5 linked regions of the Homo sapiens genome follow. The protein of the gene in region 3 interacts with the protein of the main gene of each other region in a biochemical or structural test. Each region holds a gene or a part of one and is shown on either strand. Other genes may lie near its edges. The genes, in order: POLA1, MCM10, CDC45, CLSPN and ORC5.

Region 1 (3,304 bases), on a different chromosome or scaffold from region 3:
ATGCTGCTGGGCTCTTGGCTTGGCTCTCTAAGTCAGCAAAGCACGTAAGAAACCATACTTCATCTCTTAAATGACCTAAAGTCACAGAAATTCTGAATGCTTCTCAGAACATTCGACCAAATATCATGCTGTGCACTCCTGAGCTGGGTTCTGATAGAGGTGGCTATGAAGAAACTGGGCTGAGGTTTGAAAAGGGGATGGCCTCTAGTCATATATATATATATGTGTATATATATGTGTGTGTATATATATATATGTGTGTGTGTATGTATATGTATATGTATATGTATATGTATATGTATATGTATGTACGTGTGTATGTATTTAGAGGTGGGGGCCTCACTATGTTGCCCAGTCTGCTTTGAACTCCTGGGCTCAAGCCATCCTCCTGCCTCCACCTCCCGAGTAGCCAGGACTACAGGTGTGTGCCACAGCAACTGGCTCTACTCACATTTTACTCCTTGCTGCCTCTCTAGTCAACTCTTTGCACCTGGTAAGGATTCACCACAACTGCTTTCCCTTTAGAAAACTTTATTCTTAAGAAGAAGGCACAACATACTTTTTCTTTTATAAAAACACACAGGTCAATGTTTTTTAAAAACACAGCATAATTGTACAAGGGGAAACATTTTGTTAGTATAATCTTACCAATAATGTAAGAGAGGAAAGACTGCCATACTGAAATACATTTTGCTGCTGCCAAAGACGGTCCTATTGTGAAGAAATGAGAAAAAAATAGCAAGCGCCAGGGCCAATTAAGCATCCCTCTCCCCGTTTTTCTGAATACAACACAGTGATCCTCACCGTAACCCCTACACATGTTAATGGATTGTTAGAGTATCAAATTATTTTCAATGTGCTTTCTTGTTGTATAAACCTTTACCTGCACTTTCTATTTAAGGGGCAAAAAGGGAATGTGAGTGTAAAACACCTGCTCAGTGTGTGTCTGTTGGACTTTGGAGCAATTCAACAAACAAGCCTGCTCTGTTTAATCTATTTAGTGAGTGCAAGGCTTCTAAATCTTCCCCCTCAGCTACCTATATAAAAGACAAGACTGAAAAGGACAGCCACTCCTGGATGGCTGGAGAAGCATTTGGATTTAGACCGGGTTTAATTGGCATATGAAAAAGCAAAACGTCAGCTCTTCAGTCAGGCTCTGAGAAGCTCTCTTTATGTGGGGGGGACATAGGCTAAAGGCCCTGAGGCAAAGCCTGGGGTCACTTACATTCCAGCTACTCTCAATCCAAGTAGCAATTTCCCTCCCTCAGAAACCGGGTCTTCAGGAGCTTGGGGAGGGGAGCTTGGGGAGGGGCTCTGGAGTTGTGTTTTAAAGCAGTACATCTTAATATGAAGACAGGAATTTCTATGATGCTTACGAACATTAGACTCAACATTTTTGCAGCCCCCTTTCCTGGTCTACATTCACACAAACATGAGACACAGTCCCAAGGGAGAAACAGATGCTGGAGGAGCATTTAGGGCCAGAGTGGAGGCACAGAGGAAGCTGGGATTTTTCAACTACCCCCTCCTTGGTTACTCCTGGGATTCCCTTAGGATTTCACGGCACAACCAGCGAAGAGTTTGCTCAGATTCACTTCGGAGTAGCCACTTCGGGACAAGAATTGCTCTGCTGTGTTCTTGAGTTTTCTGTAGTCCTGCAGAACTTTGGGGGTAAAAAATTGCTTCTTCAATTTATCTAAAAAGAGAGAGAGAGAGATTAGAAGTCTCAGGTAGTTTCTTTAAAGAACATTCAGTATTCCACCAGAGAAGGGGATGCTGATTCCATTTGTATCTCCACCATCTTATCTCTGGTCTACCCCTGGGGCCAGTCAGATGCAGCCCCCGCCGACCATTCCTCTGTGAAAGCTTTTCTTCCTTTCCCCTGTCTGTCCGCCTCTCAGCACCTAGCTGACTCAGTGCACTGGGGGACAGGGCCACCCTCTACTGATGTGAACTGCAGGTGCACCCTCATGTGCAGCAGACAAGGTGAGCTCTACTCGCAGACGCCACTTTCACCGGCGCTGCGAGCACATGCATGCAACTGCTTGCGAAGTCTGGACGTGGCAGGAAACACCTAGTCTCAAAGGGAGCTATGGCCTCTGGTGCCTTCCAGCCCCAACTCCCCAGATCAGCTGGGCCTAGTAAGCATTTTCTAGTCCCTCCAGCCCAAGTCCCTCTGCTAAACAAAATTTCCTTTGCTGAAAGAGGCGAGAGGTGAGCGGCCCCGAGGGCACCTGTCTGTCCATGGCCAAGATTTCTTTGCTCTTCTTTGTCCACACTGTGTGAACTCAGGGTATGCGGCACTCCTGCTCCTTTAACCCATTCATCCCTGGCCTTTCCCTTCTGAGCAGGATGCTACCAGCCAGAGAAAAGACCCCTCTCCTTTCCCTTCCCAGAGCCTGCTACTTCTACATGTTGTTTTTTTTCTTTCTTTTTTTTTTTTTGAGACAGAGGTTTGCTCTTGTTGCCCAGTCTGGAGTGCAGTGGCGCGATCTCGGCTCACCGCAACCTCCGCCTCCCGGGTTCAAGTGATTCTCCTGCCTTGGCCTCCCAAAGTGCTGGGATTCCAGGCGTGAGCCACTGCGCCCGGCCCTACATGTTGTTCTTTTAAAGGAGCAGTGGGGCTGTGATGCTCAGGTCTGATCTTTTGGGTGAAGAGAGTGATCACGTGGGGGATGACGCTGTGTTCAGGAACCTGGTAAGGTGTCTGGAGAGGCTGCTTTCCCCGCGCCCCCCCCACCCCCAATCCCCATTTGATGGCTGAGGAAACTGGGAGGTTAAGTCACTTACCCAAGGTTACACAGCAGGTAATCAGAGTTGTAGACACGCAAACCCAGGTAGCCAGAACCCCCAGCCCGCACCTGAGGAGAGGCTCACTTCTGCCCACTCCCCCTGCCACTACATCACTACTCCCACATAGAAATTTGCAGGCCTCAGACATCAGCTGATCCTGAGGTGAGGCCTCCGCCCCCATAAGATGCTGGCCTGTGCCAAAGGGCCTGGGAGCAGCAAGGCTGCCCAGCACCTCCCGATAGGAACCGGTCAGGAAGGAAACACGGAGGGGAGAGCGCGCCACTCACAGAAAGCAAACCTCCAACAACAGCAACACGGGAAGTCTACAAAACACCCGGAAAACGAAAACTCAGACTCCAGATTTTTGTTTCTTGGCTATACATTCGCATTTGCTCTCCACAACCTTTTCTGAATTACATAAGTTGTCCTTTAAAGAACAACCACAGGTTTTATAGAGAATTAAAATGCCCAAAAGGGGTGGAAAAAGAGAGGGGGGCTGCAACAGAAAGAC
Region 2 (3,519 bases), on a different chromosome or scaffold from region 3:
CCTCTTACCGCTTCTGTATTTCTTCTGATTTCCTTCTCCTCATCTCCAACATCCGCTGCTTCTGTTGCTTCAAGAGTGCTGAGGCCGAGATGGACTTGATGGCTGGTTTTGGGCTCCCCATAATCCCTGAAACAGAAGCCCAGACTGAGGGGGTGCCCTGGGAGGCTGAGGGAACACAGGGACACACGTGTGGCCATGCAGCTGATGGTACCTGAAGCTGTGGCTTTGGCTAAATGTTGTTTTAAGTTCCTGGCTCCACACGTCGGCAGGTCCATCAGTTCCTTGAACTCCTCAGAGCAAGACAGGCTCTTCTGGGGTATTCCTGTGCCAGGTCAACACCAGCTTTAGAGGATTCACATTCAGATGGTTTGAGGTCATATGACATACCACTTTCTAAACTCTGCACTTGTAATTTTAGTCATACGTAAACGAAGAAGACGGAATCCCAAGAGGAAAGAAAAGAATCCTTAACCTCTATCATCAGACTCATAGGATGGCAGGGTATCTCGACTATATTTTATTTCTAGTAATGATTAGAATATTAAGCCCTTAAATCTGGGGGTCATTCCATACCCTGTTTCTGGAATATCCGCTAAGGATAAGGGTCCCTGACCACAAGCCCAGGATGGGGGCTGCATTCTCTGATCAAGACTTGTTTTTATTTGTTTTTATTTTATTAAAAATTTTTTTGTTTTTATGACCAAGACCCATTTTAACAAAAGATAACCAATAAGCTTGGCCAGGAAGATAATACTGCTGATTCTAATGCTGGATGTAAAGAGTTGGACCCAGATACACCAAGAAATTTTAAAAAGCATACTAAGGTAAGACATAGCTAAAATCAATATGCTGTTTTTTTCCTTAAGGTCCTGCAAACCTGGCTTGATTCCTTTAGGTTAGACCGCGCCACTCACTAAGTACAGGTGATGACTGGATTCTTATTACTTAAGAGTATGAGCTGTATCCATTTTCAACCCTAAAGACTGCTTGCTTGCTTGCTTGCTTGCTTGCTTATTTATTTATTTTTGTGCATGAATAAGTTCTTAGTGGTGATTTCTGAGATTTTGGTGTACCCATCACCGGAGCAGTGTACCCTGTACCCAATGTGTAGTCTTTTATCCCTAAGGCTGCATAATTAAACTGGAGAAAGAAATTTCTTATGGAAAAACAAAGTTACCGAGTTTTTGCCGTGTTTCCTGGATGATCAAGTTTGTGCCCTTAACAACCAGATTACTCAGAGTGGTTTGAATCTTCTTCTTAGGAGCCACAGCTGCTGCACTGAAATGACAAGTCACCCCCAAAAGGAGAATCACTAAAGCCTCAATGCTCTGATGAGGTAAAGAAGGCATAGATATCATCATTTATTACACACACCGTCAAAGTTTCTCAAAACACCATCTAAGTAGGCTTTCTTAATGTTACGGCCCAATAGCATAACTGGTTTATGCACTGTGTCACAGAGGAAAAGCTAGAGGCAGCCTACAAATCCACTTGAGGCCATTCTGGAAGGAAATTTGGCAAAAGAAATAAAAAAAAAGCCAATGCTTTGATCCAGCAGTCTGGATATTTATCTTAAAATAATTAAGGATTATGCAAAAATTTAGGATATTAATGGCAGCTTTGTTTATAATGTCATACATTGGAAACACCATTAACGTTCACCCACAGGGAATTGTTTAAATGAATTAAGGCAGAGTATGCAAAAGAACACTATGTAGCCACTGAAAATACATGAGAAAAACATTAATTATTTTACACTGGAAAAAAAGTGGATACAAAGAATAGGAACAATATGATCTCATTTTATATTACTAAAAATGTACACATATGAAGAAACACAACACCTAGGAGTATATATACCAAGGAACTAACAGTTTGGGGTTTTTTTTTTGAGACAAGATCTCACTCTGTTGTCCAGCCTGGAGTACAGTGGAGCAATCCTGACTCACTGCAGCCTCAACTTCCCCAGGCTCAAGCAATTCTCCCATCTCAGCCTCCCAAACAGCTGGGACTACAGGCATGTGCCACCATGCCCAGCTAATTTTTTTTGCATTTTGTAGAGATGGGGTTTTGCCATGTCGCTCAGGCGGGTCTCAAATTCCTGGGCTTAAGCAATCCTCCTGCCTTGGCCTCCCGAAGTGCTGGGATTACAGGTGTAAGCCACTGTGCCTGGCCTAGAACTAACAGTTTTTCAGGTGATAGGATTATAGTTGGTTTTTATTTTCTCCATTGGTTGGATTGTATGTTCTTTTAAAAGACTAATATACATGTATTGTTTTAGCAGATTGGAAAAATTCAGAAATAATTTTAAATCTCAAAAACATGCTTACTGTTAAAAAAGAAACAGGAAATGAGTCCTCTTGCCCCATTCCTGCTGGATTGGGAACAAAAATCTATGTTTTATTCTTGGACCAACTGTAGCTGCCTCGTGCCAAGTCCTCAGATATGCTTTATATAATGTAGTGACGAGGCCACTGATTACAAGCTTATCCAAACCATAGCCTGCGGGCCACATGCAGCCCAGGATGGCTTTGAATGCGGCCCAACACAAATTCATAAACTTTCTTAAAACATTAAGAGATTTTTCTTTTCTTTTCTTTCTTTTTTTAAGCTTATAGGCTATCATTAATATATTTTATGTGTAGTCCAAGACAATTCTTCCAAAGGGGCCCAGGGAAGCCAAAAGATTGGACACCCCTGGATTACAGCGTCAGGGGCTGTAGTGACTCTGAACCCCCAGGCAAGGGGCCATGGATGCCTGCCCAGCATCGCCCCACTCCCCATGTGAAGCTTCATAGTATATTCACTCACTGAATGAAATTTGGGTTCCATGAGGTCTGTAGCCTCACTCATATAGTCATACGAGAAATAATTAAAAGGGTGTTAACACTGTAATTAACACATTTTTAATGGCCCTGATGAAGGTGCACTATTCACATTAGAAGTCAAAGAGGGGCTGGGAGCAGTGGCTCATGCCTGTAATCCCAGCACTTTGGGAGGCCGAGGCAGGCAGATCACCTGAGGTCAGGATTTCGAGACCAGCCTGGCCATCATGGTGAAACCCTGTCTGTACCAAAAATGCAAAAATTAGCTGGGCGTGGTGGCACGCGCCTGTAGTCCCAGCTACTCAGGAGGCTGAGGCAGAAGAATCACCTAAACCCAGGACTTGGAGGTTGCAGTGAGCTGAGACTGCACCACTGCACTCCAGCCTGGGTGATAGAGTAAGACTCCGTCTCAAAAAAAAAAAAAAAAGTTGAAGAGGAAGAGTGGGCTCTCTTAAAGTCCAACACAACATAAGTCAATCTCTCTCTCTCCTGAAAGTTTTTCTCTCTACCTGGGAATAAAAGCGGTCTTTAACCAACTTGTTTCAAGTAGTGAGTTATGAAAGATAAAACCTGTACAAGTATCCTATGACGGTTACAGGAAGGTACAACCAGTAGGTTTAGTCTTTGATAAGCAAAATCCTCTGCCCAAAAGAAGCCCGAGAACGTCTTACATTGAAGCTGCATACGAGGCAGA
Region 3 (3,519 bases):
GGAGGGACCAGTGCTGGTAGAGCACCAGGCGGAGGCTGGGCCTGCAGTCAAGGAGCATGCAAGCACCCACTGGCCGCCCTGAGCACTCTCGTAACTCCAGCAGGTGGGCCACTCTGATGGCGGGGCCCTTTCTCACCAGGCCTGCCTGCAAAACCAGGTATCCCAAGAGTGACCTGGAGCCCTTTGACCTTCTTAGCTTAAGCTGACCCATACAGAGAGCCTGTGAAGTGACAGGCATAGACCACCATCCGTCTGACAGGCAGAGAATCTGGAGCACAGGGGTCTGCAAAGTCCAGGTGCTGTGGTCACATGGAGCAGTCATGGCCACACATGACGTAGGAGGCTGGGCGTCACCAGCTTGTCGTCCTGCACCTCCTGCTCCACCTAGCCCAGCCCTCCCTACAACCCATTCCTCCGGAGAGCCCTCCACTGGGACCCCATCCACGAAGCGCCCCCATCCTCAGCCCTTTTTTCGTTTTTTTTTTTTGAGACGGAGTCTCGCTCTGTCGCCCAGGCTGGAGTGCAGTGGCACGATCTCGGCTCGCTGCAAGCTCCACCTTCTGGATTCACGCCATTCTCCTGCCTCAGCCTCCCGAATAGCTGGGACTATAGGCACCCGCCACCATGCCTGGCTGATTTTTTGTATTTTTCGTAGAAACGAGGTTTCACCGTGTTAGCCAGGATGGTCTCGATCTCCTGACCTCATGATCCACTTGCCTTGGCCTCCCAGAGTGCTGGGATTACAGGCGTGAGCCACAGCGCCCGACCTCCTCAGCCCTTTTCTTAAACATATCCATCACTGCCCCTGGCACCGTGAGCGCAGTTGTGAGTGTGGACTGTCCCCCACGGTGGATTTCCCCTCTACAGGACGAGAGCCTGGTCCTGCCTGCTTCCTCGGCATGCTCAGTTCCCACCACTGCCCCTCCCAACTCCTGGGAACTCCCAGGCCTTCAGACCACCATGCTCCCTGCCCACACTCCAGCAGCTTCCTCAAGCCCCAGCATCCTCAGCTCCCTGACTCCCTCCCTCCTGTCTCAGTCACACACTCCCATGGTCCCTGGGTAAGTGAGCCCACCCTGCCACGCACATGATGGGACCAGCTCCAGTGCACAGCGGCTCCCCTCCCCAGGAGTTCAGCCAGCTCCACCCCGCTCCCCAGGCTCCGATGGCCACCTGACTACTGACGTGTCCACCCTCACTCTTCCTCCTTCCCAGCCATCACAGTGCAGAGACAGGGCAGCTCCGTCCCTGACATCATGCTATCTGACTGCTTACAGCCACTGCTGCAGTTTGGGCCAAGCCACTATTGTGTGGCCTTGGAAAGCAGTGACCATCTCCTTGCCCCCAACCTACCTCTACTGGGCAGCCAAGGGACCTTTTAAAAACCCTGACTCAAACTCTGGTCACTCCACAGCCTCCCGCTGCCCTTGGCTCACAAGGCTTGCTCTGGCCTCCTGACACCTGACCCCAGCCAGTCCCCCAGCCCCTCCTGTGCTCAGTACAGCAGCTGCCACACTGAGTGTGGCTGAGACTGTGTGAGATGTGGTCTCCCCATGGTCTTTTCTGAGCACTCCACCAATGTCCCATGTGCTTCTCAAAAGACACGTCACGCTGTGTGATTACATGGCAGCTGCCTTCTTTCCTGACTGCGTGAACCACTGCCCGCACTGCTACCATGTCCAGAGCCAGGCCCACAATAAGCACTTTACAGGGATGTGCTGGAGAAGGGTGATACTTCCAAACTCAGCTCTGGCATTTAGAAGCCAAAGCCACACAGATGAGCTGGGGTAGCACACCACAGCCCCTTCCCCCAAAACTTCCTGCCCCACCTGCTTTCCCTCCTGGGGATGTGGCCAGAACCCACAGAGGGTGACAAAGCAAACAAGGCCTGCTGAGCAGGGGTGCTGCCTGTGCCCCTCAGGCTGGGCCACAAGGATACTCATACTCAAAGGAGATCCGTGTGCAGTCCACGGAGAGTGTGTTCTCCTCATCCTCGTTCCGGTGGTTGTGGCGGGAAACGTGGCGCTGCAGGACACCAACATCAGTCACGTATTTCATTCTGGAAAAAAAAGTAGCACAAGCCTCGGCTGGTTCCCTCCAGCTCTTACCAGGCAGCCTAAGCCTAGGCTCCATTCCCGCTCAAGGCCTTCCTCAGGGGCCTGCTCACCACAGGAGCTGTTCCCATGCAGGGACTAAGGACATGCAGCCTGCATAGAAACCAAGCACCCAGGAAAACATGATTGGATGGAGCGGGGGGGTGTGGTCTCTAGCCTTGTCCACCTCCGGTCCTCATGGGTCTCACACCTCCTGAGAATGGGCACCGCAGAGGCCACAGCCCATACAGCCAAGATGACAGACTCCGTAAGTGACAGGGATCCACAGCAGAGTGGGTGAAATGTTCCCTATAAACTTTACAAAATTAATGAGGGCAGGGGGAGGGGAGAAATGAAAATGAACCCAGCTCGCAGCACATCAGCATCAGTCACTAGGTCGGCGTGCTCTCTGACTGCTTCCTCGTAGCTGCTTGGTGTCTCATTGCCTCAGAAGCATGTAGACCCTGTCACAAGATTGTAGTTCCCCTAACTGCTCCGTAGATCACAACTTGAACCTTAGGAAATGCTGTTTTCCCTTTGAGATATTCCTTTGGGTCCTGTATACTGATGGAGCTACTGACTGAGCTGCTCCGAAGGACCCCACGAGGAGCTGACTAAACCAAGAGTGCAGTTTGTACACCCTGATGATTACATCCCCCTTGCCCCACCAATCAACTCTCCCAATTTTCCAGCCCCTCACCCTCCAGTCCCCTTAAAAGCCCCAGCCCAGGCCGGGCACAGTGGCTCATGCCTGTAATCCCAGCACTTTGGGAGGCCAAGGTGGGCAGATCACCTGAGGGCAGGAATTTGAGACCAGCCTGACCAACATGAAGAAACCCCGTCTCTATTACAAATACAAAATTAGCCGGGCGTGTTGCTGCATACTGGTAATCCCAGCTACTTGGGAGGGTGAGGCAGGAGAATCACTTGAATCTGGGAGGCGGAGGTTGCGATGAGCCGAGACAGCGCCATTGCACTGCAGCCTGGGCAACAAGAGCAAAACTCCATCTCAAAAACAAACAAACAAACAAAACCAAAAAAGCCCAGCCCAGAACTCCTCAAGGAGATGGATTTGAGGATCTCCTCCCATCTTCTCACTCGGTGCCCTGCAATCATGAAACTCTTCCTCTGCTGCAAACTCTGCTGTCTCAGTGTAACAAGTCTGTTACTGCACAGCAGGCATACAAACCTGCTGGTCCTATAACACATTATGGTGAGTCTAGCCTCGAGCCCCTTGTGGGCATTTGCTTGCCTGCGGCTTGGTGCGCCTTCGCTGTTCAGTGGGAAGGACCCAGAGACAAGCCCAAAGCCCAAGCGGCCACTGGGTTCCATTGAACTATATGGGCTGCCACCCGTGCCCTGCCTGTTGACAGGGCAATGTCAACCTTTGGTGCATAGACTGCTCGCAGCAAAGCAAGTTTCTGGT
Region 4 (3,519 bases), on a different chromosome or scaffold from region 3:
GCTAGGACTACAGATGCGTGCCACCATGCCCGGCTAATTTTTGTATTTTTAGTACAGACGGGGTTTCACTGTATTGGCCAGGCTAGTCTCAAACTCCTGACCTCGTGATCTGCCCGCCTTGGCCTCCCAAAGTGCTGGGATTACAGGCGTAAGCCACCGCACCCAGCCAACAGACTTCCATTTTAAACATGGCTTAGATCATTCTGATACCCTGCCAAATTTCTCTAAAAAAGACTCTGCCCATATCTGGAACAACTGCAGGATAAGATCAAAGTGGTTATTGGTTCCTCCTGTGTTCTCTGTCCTCGACAGTAGTCAATAATCAAAAGCTACCAGGATAATCACTCCAGGGAGGCTCCCCACAATGTAAAGGATTACCTCTGTTGGTTTCAGGTTCAAGTATCACAAAGGAATCTTCATCAGCACCTAGCCGTGGTTTAATGGAAACATCTACTCCCAGTTGCTTAAGTCTATCCAGAGTAAACCGTCTCACTTTTTCAGGTGGCCCAACTGCTGATGATTTATTTTGCTGCTCAGGCTCTTCCACTTTCTCATCTGTTTCTTCTGGATTTTGGGGGCCTTCACCCTCCAGGGCATGAGGTTCAAATGCTACAAGCCCTCCAACCTGACATTCCTCACTGTGATTGTTCCCGAGGAAGTTGGATTCCTGTTGCAACACTGAGCTGTCCCCAGGTGAAGGTCTAATGTCACTCTGCTTCTGTTTCTCCTGAATTTCTAGCTCTTCATTTTTTACCAAATCCTTCCTGCAAGACTCATCTGATCCAGTAATGATCTGGGTTTCCTTTGAAACTACAGGGAGTGCATTAGTTTCCACTTCATTTTCTGCACCTGTTGTCTGCTCAGAACCTTTACTATGGTGATCACTGTTCATTTCAGTAGTATTTGCAGTGTCTATGATTTCTTTGTGATGGCTTGACTGATATTTAGATGACCTAGAGAAGAGAAATTGAGCTGGAGTTGAAAATTATCCTAAATGTGAAACATTCTCATCCCTTAGTATATATCAGTTAAATCAGTTTTAAGGGAGTGAGAAATCTGAACTTTTTATGCCAGATGTTTGCTACAAAACTAAATGTTCATGAAAATTATAATAAGGAAAGAGGGTTCTTACTTCAATAGTGCCATGGCATTTCCGTGGCAAGTGGGCCGGGGTTTACGTTTGAAGAAATCATGAATGGTTTTATTCTCAGGCATATGATATGGAAGGTTCAGTGCAGACTCTATAAAATGGAATAAAACAAGCAAATATATATACTGTATATTCTGAAATGTCACTTCATATTCAGTTAACTAAACATAATAACCAAAGCCATCACTAGAAATAGAAAACTCCCCTTTAACAAAGGCAGAGGAGCTAAGTACAAAAAAGCTCCCTGAAGACCAGTGGCTTTTAAACCTAGATGTGAAATCAAAATGATCCAGGAAGTTTTTTAGAAATACAGATTCTTGGATCCCATTTCGAATCTACTGAATCAGAATCTCTGTGGGACCTAAACATTTATATACAGTAGTCCCCGCTTATCCAGACAGACACATTCCAAGACCTGCAGTGGATGCCTGAAACTGCAGATGGTACTAAACCATGCAGTGTTTTTTTGATCTGATAACTGAGAGGGCTACTAACGGACTAACAGGCAGGTAATGTATACAGCGTGATACTCTGGACAAAGGGATGATATTTTTAAGTTCCATGGACCATGGCTGACACAGGTAACCAAAACTGCAAATAGGGAGGGATTACTACCTCTCCAAAGAATCCTGACACAATCAGTCCATAGACAACCATTAAAAAATTTCCTCCTTACCTGCACTACAGTTCTGAAAATTTCTTCAGTTTATACTAATGTTCCAAGGGCTTTAGAACAATGGCCTTTCACCAAGATCAATTCTAAACTTAATATTATAACCTGAGTTCACATTAGAAGTGTTAAAAAAATAAAAGTCCCCAACATCCAAGTTGAGCTTACAAAGAAATGTTGTGATTTTGCCTCAAAGTTTACTGGGTTGCATTACCTCGAATAAGGCGCTGAGTCTCACTATGCAGTTGTTTTAATGCTTCTTTACTTAATCTGGCTGCCTTTCTTTCCTTAAAGAAAACAAGAAGTGAGACTACATTAATTATATGAATATCCAGAAAGATAGATATTCATCACTCAAGAGTTTGCTCTCTCCAAGAAAAGAGGAAAGGAAATAGTAAGCATGAGTAAGCCCAAATGCAGTATAAACTCAAGGAATTCATTTATTCCCAAGTCTCAGAGAATTTGTTCAATCCAATCCATATTTTGTTCCTACTATGTACAAAGCAATATGATGGGTAACAGAAAAATATGATAGACAAAATAAAATATTTATCCCTAAGAAATCTATAATCTCCTGTGTAAAGAGATCAGTGTGACTAATATACAGGGCTCTACCTCACCTTCCTCGTGGTTCCTTTTGATAACTCACTTCCTTCCTCAAATGAATGGACCCCACTCTCCAAAGATGGTTCTTTTTTCTAAAAGAAATGGCAGGTTGATTAGGACAAAAACGAAATTCAAATAAGAGGATGCTTTAGCTGAAGACTACTTTTGTAGTCCAACACCACATCATGCTACATTAATAAATCAATAATCATCAACTAGAAATTATTAAACACACAGCATCCTATTATGCTTAGAAAACAGATACCTCAGATGGAGTCTGGACCCTTATTTCTTTTACCTCTGCTTACATCTTTCCCTAAAGAGGGATAATAACTCGCAGGAAGCTAAAAAAAAATCTTAGGAAGAAAAATTATGCTTCCAAACACTCGGGACAACAATGTTTTGACTGATGCCTCTCTTTGATACCCTTCCTGAAACCCTATAGGGTTCATTTCTCAAAGGCTATAGGATTGCAAAATTTACATCTCTTCCCTATTATTTACCTGCATCTTACTACACCATCAAATATCTTAGTGGTTTTTTTTTTCAGCATTCCTAAAAGGGTAATAACAAAACACTAGTTTCCAAAGAAGTTAGCATGTCTATCACTTGTACTGCAAGTCTCCAAAATTAACAGCTGAAACACTTAAGTCAACTGACACAAGTTTTTCTTCAGTTAAAAAAAAAATTAAGGTTCCAACAGTAAATTAAAAATATAGCAAAGGTCAGAAGCAGTTGATTAACTCTTATTGCAATCATGCTTTACTTGCCTTGTGCTTTTTTACTTTGTTTTTTACAGCTGCTCTTATTGATTCTAATGACTCTTCATCTTCCAATGGAGAGTTATTTTCATCCTCCAACCCAGTTTCAAAAAGGTCTTTATCCACAAGAAGACAGCCACTGTCATTAAATGGCTGTTCTACATCATCTTCCTAAGTAATACATAAACAAAAAGCATAATCCAATCATTTAAAAATCCAGTATTTCACAACATCATATGGCAATTTGGATCAGGCCAGAAAAAGCCCATGTTTCATCAACAGACAAGCATATAAAATCTAGAACATTCTTACTGGTTTCTAACTCACATGTA
Region 5 (3,519 bases), on a different chromosome or scaffold from region 3:
CAAGGGAGTGGGTTATTGAGAGAATGGCTTTATTATAAAAGGGACTTCTGCCACCTCTTGCTCTCACTCTCATCCTCTCTTGTACTTCTACTTTCATCATGAGAGGAGGCAGCAAGAAAGCCCTTGCCAGATGCAGGGACCTCAACCTTTGACTTCCTAACCTCCACAACTGTGAGAAATAAATGTCTTTTCTTTATAAATTACCCAGTCCTTGGTAGTCTGTTATAGCAACTGAGTAATAGGCAGAGGTTGGAACAGGATGGAGGGCTCAGAAGACAGGAAGAAATGGGAAAGTTTGCAACTTCCTAGAGACTTGTTAGATGGCTTTGACCAAAATGTTGATAGTGATATGGACAATGAAGTACAGACTGAGGTGGTCATAGATGGACATGAGGAACTAATTGGGGACAGGGAATAAAAGTGACTCTTGCTATGCTCTAGCAAAGAGAAGGGTGGCATTTTGCCCCTGCCCTAGAGATCTGTGGAACTTTGAACTTGAGAAAGATGATTTAGGGTATCTGGTGGAAGAAATTTCTAAGCAGCAAAGCATTCAACAGGTGACCTGGCTGATTCTGAAAGCATTCAGTCATATGCATTCACAAAGAGATTATCTAAAACTGGAACTTACATTTAAAAGGGAAGCAGAGCATAAAACTTTGGAAAATCTGTGGCCAGACCATGAGGTAGAAAAGAAAAAACCCATTTTCTGGGGAGAAATTCAAGCCAGCTGCAGAAATGTGCATAAGTAACAAGGAGCCAAATGTTAACAGCCAAGACAACGGGGAAAATGTCTCCAAGGTCTTCACGTGGCAGCCCATCCCATTACAGGCCCAGAGGCCTAAGAGGGAAAAATGGTTTTGTGGGCCAGGGCCTTGCTGCTTTGTGCAGTCTCGGAACTTGGTGTCCTGCATCCCCACTCATGGCTAAAAGGGGCCAGCGTATAGCTCAGGCTGTTGCTTCAGAGAGTGCAAGCCCCAAGCCTTGGCGGCTTACATGTGGGGCCTGCAGGTGCACAGCAATCAAGAATTAACGTTTGGGAACCTCTGCCTAGATTTCAGAGGATGTACAGAAATGCCTGGATGTCCAGGCAGAAGTTGGCTGTAGGTGCAGGGCCCTCATGGAGAACCTCTACTAGGGCAGTACAGAAGGGGAATGTGGGGTTGGACCCCCCCTACAGAGTCCCCACTGGGCACTGCCTAGTGGAGCTATGAGAAGAGGGCCACCATCCTCCAGACCCCAGAATGGCAGATTCAACAGCTTGCACTGTGTGCATGGAAAAGCCACAGATACTCAACGCCAGCCTGTGAAAACAGCAGAGAGGGCAACTGTACCCCGCAAAGCCACAGAGGTGGAGCTGCACAAGGCCATGGGAGCCCACTCTTGCATCAGTGGGCTGGATGTGAGGCATGGAGCCACAGAGGTCGAGCTGCATGAGGCTGTGGGAGCCCACTCTTGCATCAGTGGGCTGGATGTGAGGCATGGAGTCAAAGGAGATCATTTTGGAACTTTAAAGTTTAATGACTGCCTTATTGGATTGCAGACTTTCTTGGGGCCTACAGCCCCTTTGTTTGGGCCAATTTCTCCCATTTGAAAAGGCTGTATTTACCCATTGCCTGTATCTCCATTGTATCTAGAAAGTAACTAACTTACTTTTGATTTTATAGGCTCATAGGTGGAAGGGACTTGCCTTATCTCAGATGAGACTTTGGACTTGGACTTTTGGGCTAATTAAGCTGGAATGAGTTAAGACTTTGGGGGACTATTGGGAAGCCACAGTTGACTTTGAAATGTGAAACCGACATGAGATTTGGGAGAGGCCAAGTGTGGAATGGTGTGGTCAGGCTTTGTGTCCCCATCCAAATCTCATCTTAACTTGTAATCTCCATAATCTCCATGTGTCAAGGGAGAGACCAGGTGGAGGTAAATGAATCTTGGGGGTGGTTCCCCCATGCTGTTCTTGTGATAGTGAGCTCACATCTGATCTGACGATTTTATAAGGAGCTTCTCCTTCCTTCTACTTTGTGAAGCAGGTGCCTTGCTTCCCCTTTGCCTTCTGCTGATTATAAGTTTCCTGAGGCCTCCCCAGCCACGCTGAACTGTAAGTCAATTAAATCTCTTTCCTTTATAAACTATCCAGTCTTGGGTAGTTCTTATCCAATTCCAAAGATGATCATTTTAACATGTCTTCAGAGTAACCAGGCATATTTGTTGCTCTAAAGTCTTTACTATCTCCTATCCACTCCCTAAGAAATTAAATGAAGTGCTTTAGTATAGTTTTCTAGACCTTCCACAATCTGCCCAACCTATCTTCCAGTCTTCTTTTTCTCCCGTCATACTTTATAACCCACTAAAACTAGACTATTTGGTACTCTCTGGCCTCCATTTTCAGCTGCATGCCTTTACTTATATAATTCTATCTGAAATTCCTCTACTTCAATTTCTTCCTAGAATACTCTGATTCATTTAGGTCTGTCTCAAATGCTAATACCTCATGAAGCTGTATTGGACACACACAGTCAATATTTTGCATCTGGTGACAATCACTTATCACATTCTGCATGTAGTCGTATGTATGTGTCATACCTTTTCTATTAAATGAAGCTTCCCTTGGATAAGGAATATATTTAATACATTTCTGTATACTAAAAGCACCTGGCACAGAGCACTGTACATAATGAGACTCAAAACAAATATATGAAAATTGATCTAATAAATTATCAGTTTTCAAGATAAGAGATGATCTAATCAAATGAAATTACTTACAATATATACAGTCTGATCTTTAAGATTTTCAGCTGTGGTTACTTGTTTAAACAAGCGAACAAAGTCATTAAATGTTTCACAGGTTATTTCAGTAGAACATCCATCCTCTGAAGAACTAAGATGATTCAATTTGTTTAAAATTTGTTCCAAAAGCAGCCTCAATGTAAAGCATTCAACACAATTCACAAACACATGTGGGAGCTGAAAACGAAAACCAAAACACTGTAAGTAAAGAAGAAAACACACAAACACAATAATGGCTGTGCTGGATAGTCTCCATTTGCCTTTCTAAATCTATATCCCACCAAACCCACCCCATGCCCCAAGAGCCTGACAGCTACAGAATTACATCACCTGGACTCTCTTATTTTCTGTCTCTGGATGGAGAAGCCAATGGAAAGAACCAGCAGGAGACTAAGGGAGAATGGTGGGAGAGAAGTTTGGATATTGATTTCCTTGACTCCCACCATGACCCCTCAGTGGCCCTAGCTTGGCAGTGGATACTCTTCTACCAAAGATCAAGTTGGACAGCCCCTCTTCTAAGGCTACACCTCTTGTTTGGTTCCAATAACAGCTCCTTTCTATGGTCCCTTCAGGCCTGGAGGTGGTAAAGGCCCTGGTGTACCATCATCCCTTAGTGATTCCCATAAAATTTCCATTATAAAACTGTCCCTTCATTAAACTCACTTCAATTATTTCTTTCAGCTTGCCATTTCTTTCTTATGGAAATTCAAAGCAAATTTGTATTTTCCTATA

What was found.
Region 1: the proteins of CDC45 (region 3) and POLA1 form a complex in vitro, tested with the Homo sapiens proteins (one study listed by BioGRID).
Region 2: the proteins of CDC45 (region 3) and MCM10 form a complex in vitro, tested with the Homo sapiens proteins (one large-scale study listed by BioGRID and IntAct).
Region 4: the proteins of CDC45 (region 3) and CLSPN form a complex in vitro, tested with the Homo sapiens proteins (one study listed by BioGRID).
Region 5: the proteins of CDC45 (region 3) and ORC5 form a complex in vitro, tested with the Homo sapiens proteins (one large-scale study listed by BioGRID and IntAct).

What each region holds. Positions count from the first base shown.
Region 1 is NC_000023.11:24,994,197-24,997,500, reverse strand, and holds the end of POLA1 (DNA polymerase alpha catalytic subunit), read right to left. Parts: intron 1,697-3,304; coding exon 1,551-1,696; 3' UTR 515-1,550; downstream 1-514. UniProt on the Homo sapiens protein: Catalytic subunit of the DNA polymerase alpha complex (also known as the alpha DNA polymerase-primase complex) which plays an essential role in the initiation of DNA synthesis.
Region 2 is NC_000010.11:13,189,058-13,192,576, reverse strand, and holds part of MCM10 (protein MCM10 homolog), read right to left. Parts: coding exon 3,497-3,519; intron 1,279-3,496; coding exon 1,178-1,278; intron 323-1,177; coding exon 212-322; intron 127-211; coding exon 9-126; intron 1-8. UniProt on the Homo sapiens protein: Acts as a replication initiation factor that brings together the MCM2-7 helicase and the DNA polymerase alpha/primase complex in order to initiate DNA replication. Additionally, plays a role in preventing DNA damage during replication.
Region 3 is NC_000022.11:19,503,902-19,507,420, reverse strand, and holds part of CDC45 (cell division control protein 45 homolog), read right to left. Parts: intron 2,060-3,519; coding exon 1,940-2,059; intron 36-1,939; coding exon 1-35. UniProt on the Homo sapiens protein: Required for initiation of chromosomal DNA replication. Core component of CDC45-MCM-GINS (CMG) helicase, the molecular machine that unwinds template DNA during replication, and around which the replisome is built.
Region 4 is NC_000001.11:35,759,964-35,763,482, forward strand, and holds part of CLSPN (claspin), read right to left. Parts: intron 3,359-3,519; coding exon 3,197-3,358; intron 2,519-3,196; coding exon 2,441-2,518; intron 2,108-2,440; coding exon 2,035-2,107; intron 1,242-2,034; coding exon 1,133-1,241; intron 954-1,132; coding exon 379-953; intron 1-378.
Region 5 is NC_000007.14:104,197,995-104,201,513, forward strand, and holds part of ORC5 (origin recognition complex subunit 5), read right to left. Parts: intron 2,965-3,519; coding exon 2,764-2,964; intron 1-2,763. UniProt on the Homo sapiens protein: Component of the origin recognition complex (ORC) that binds origins of replication. DNA-binding is ATP-dependent. The specific DNA sequences that define origins of replication have not been identified yet.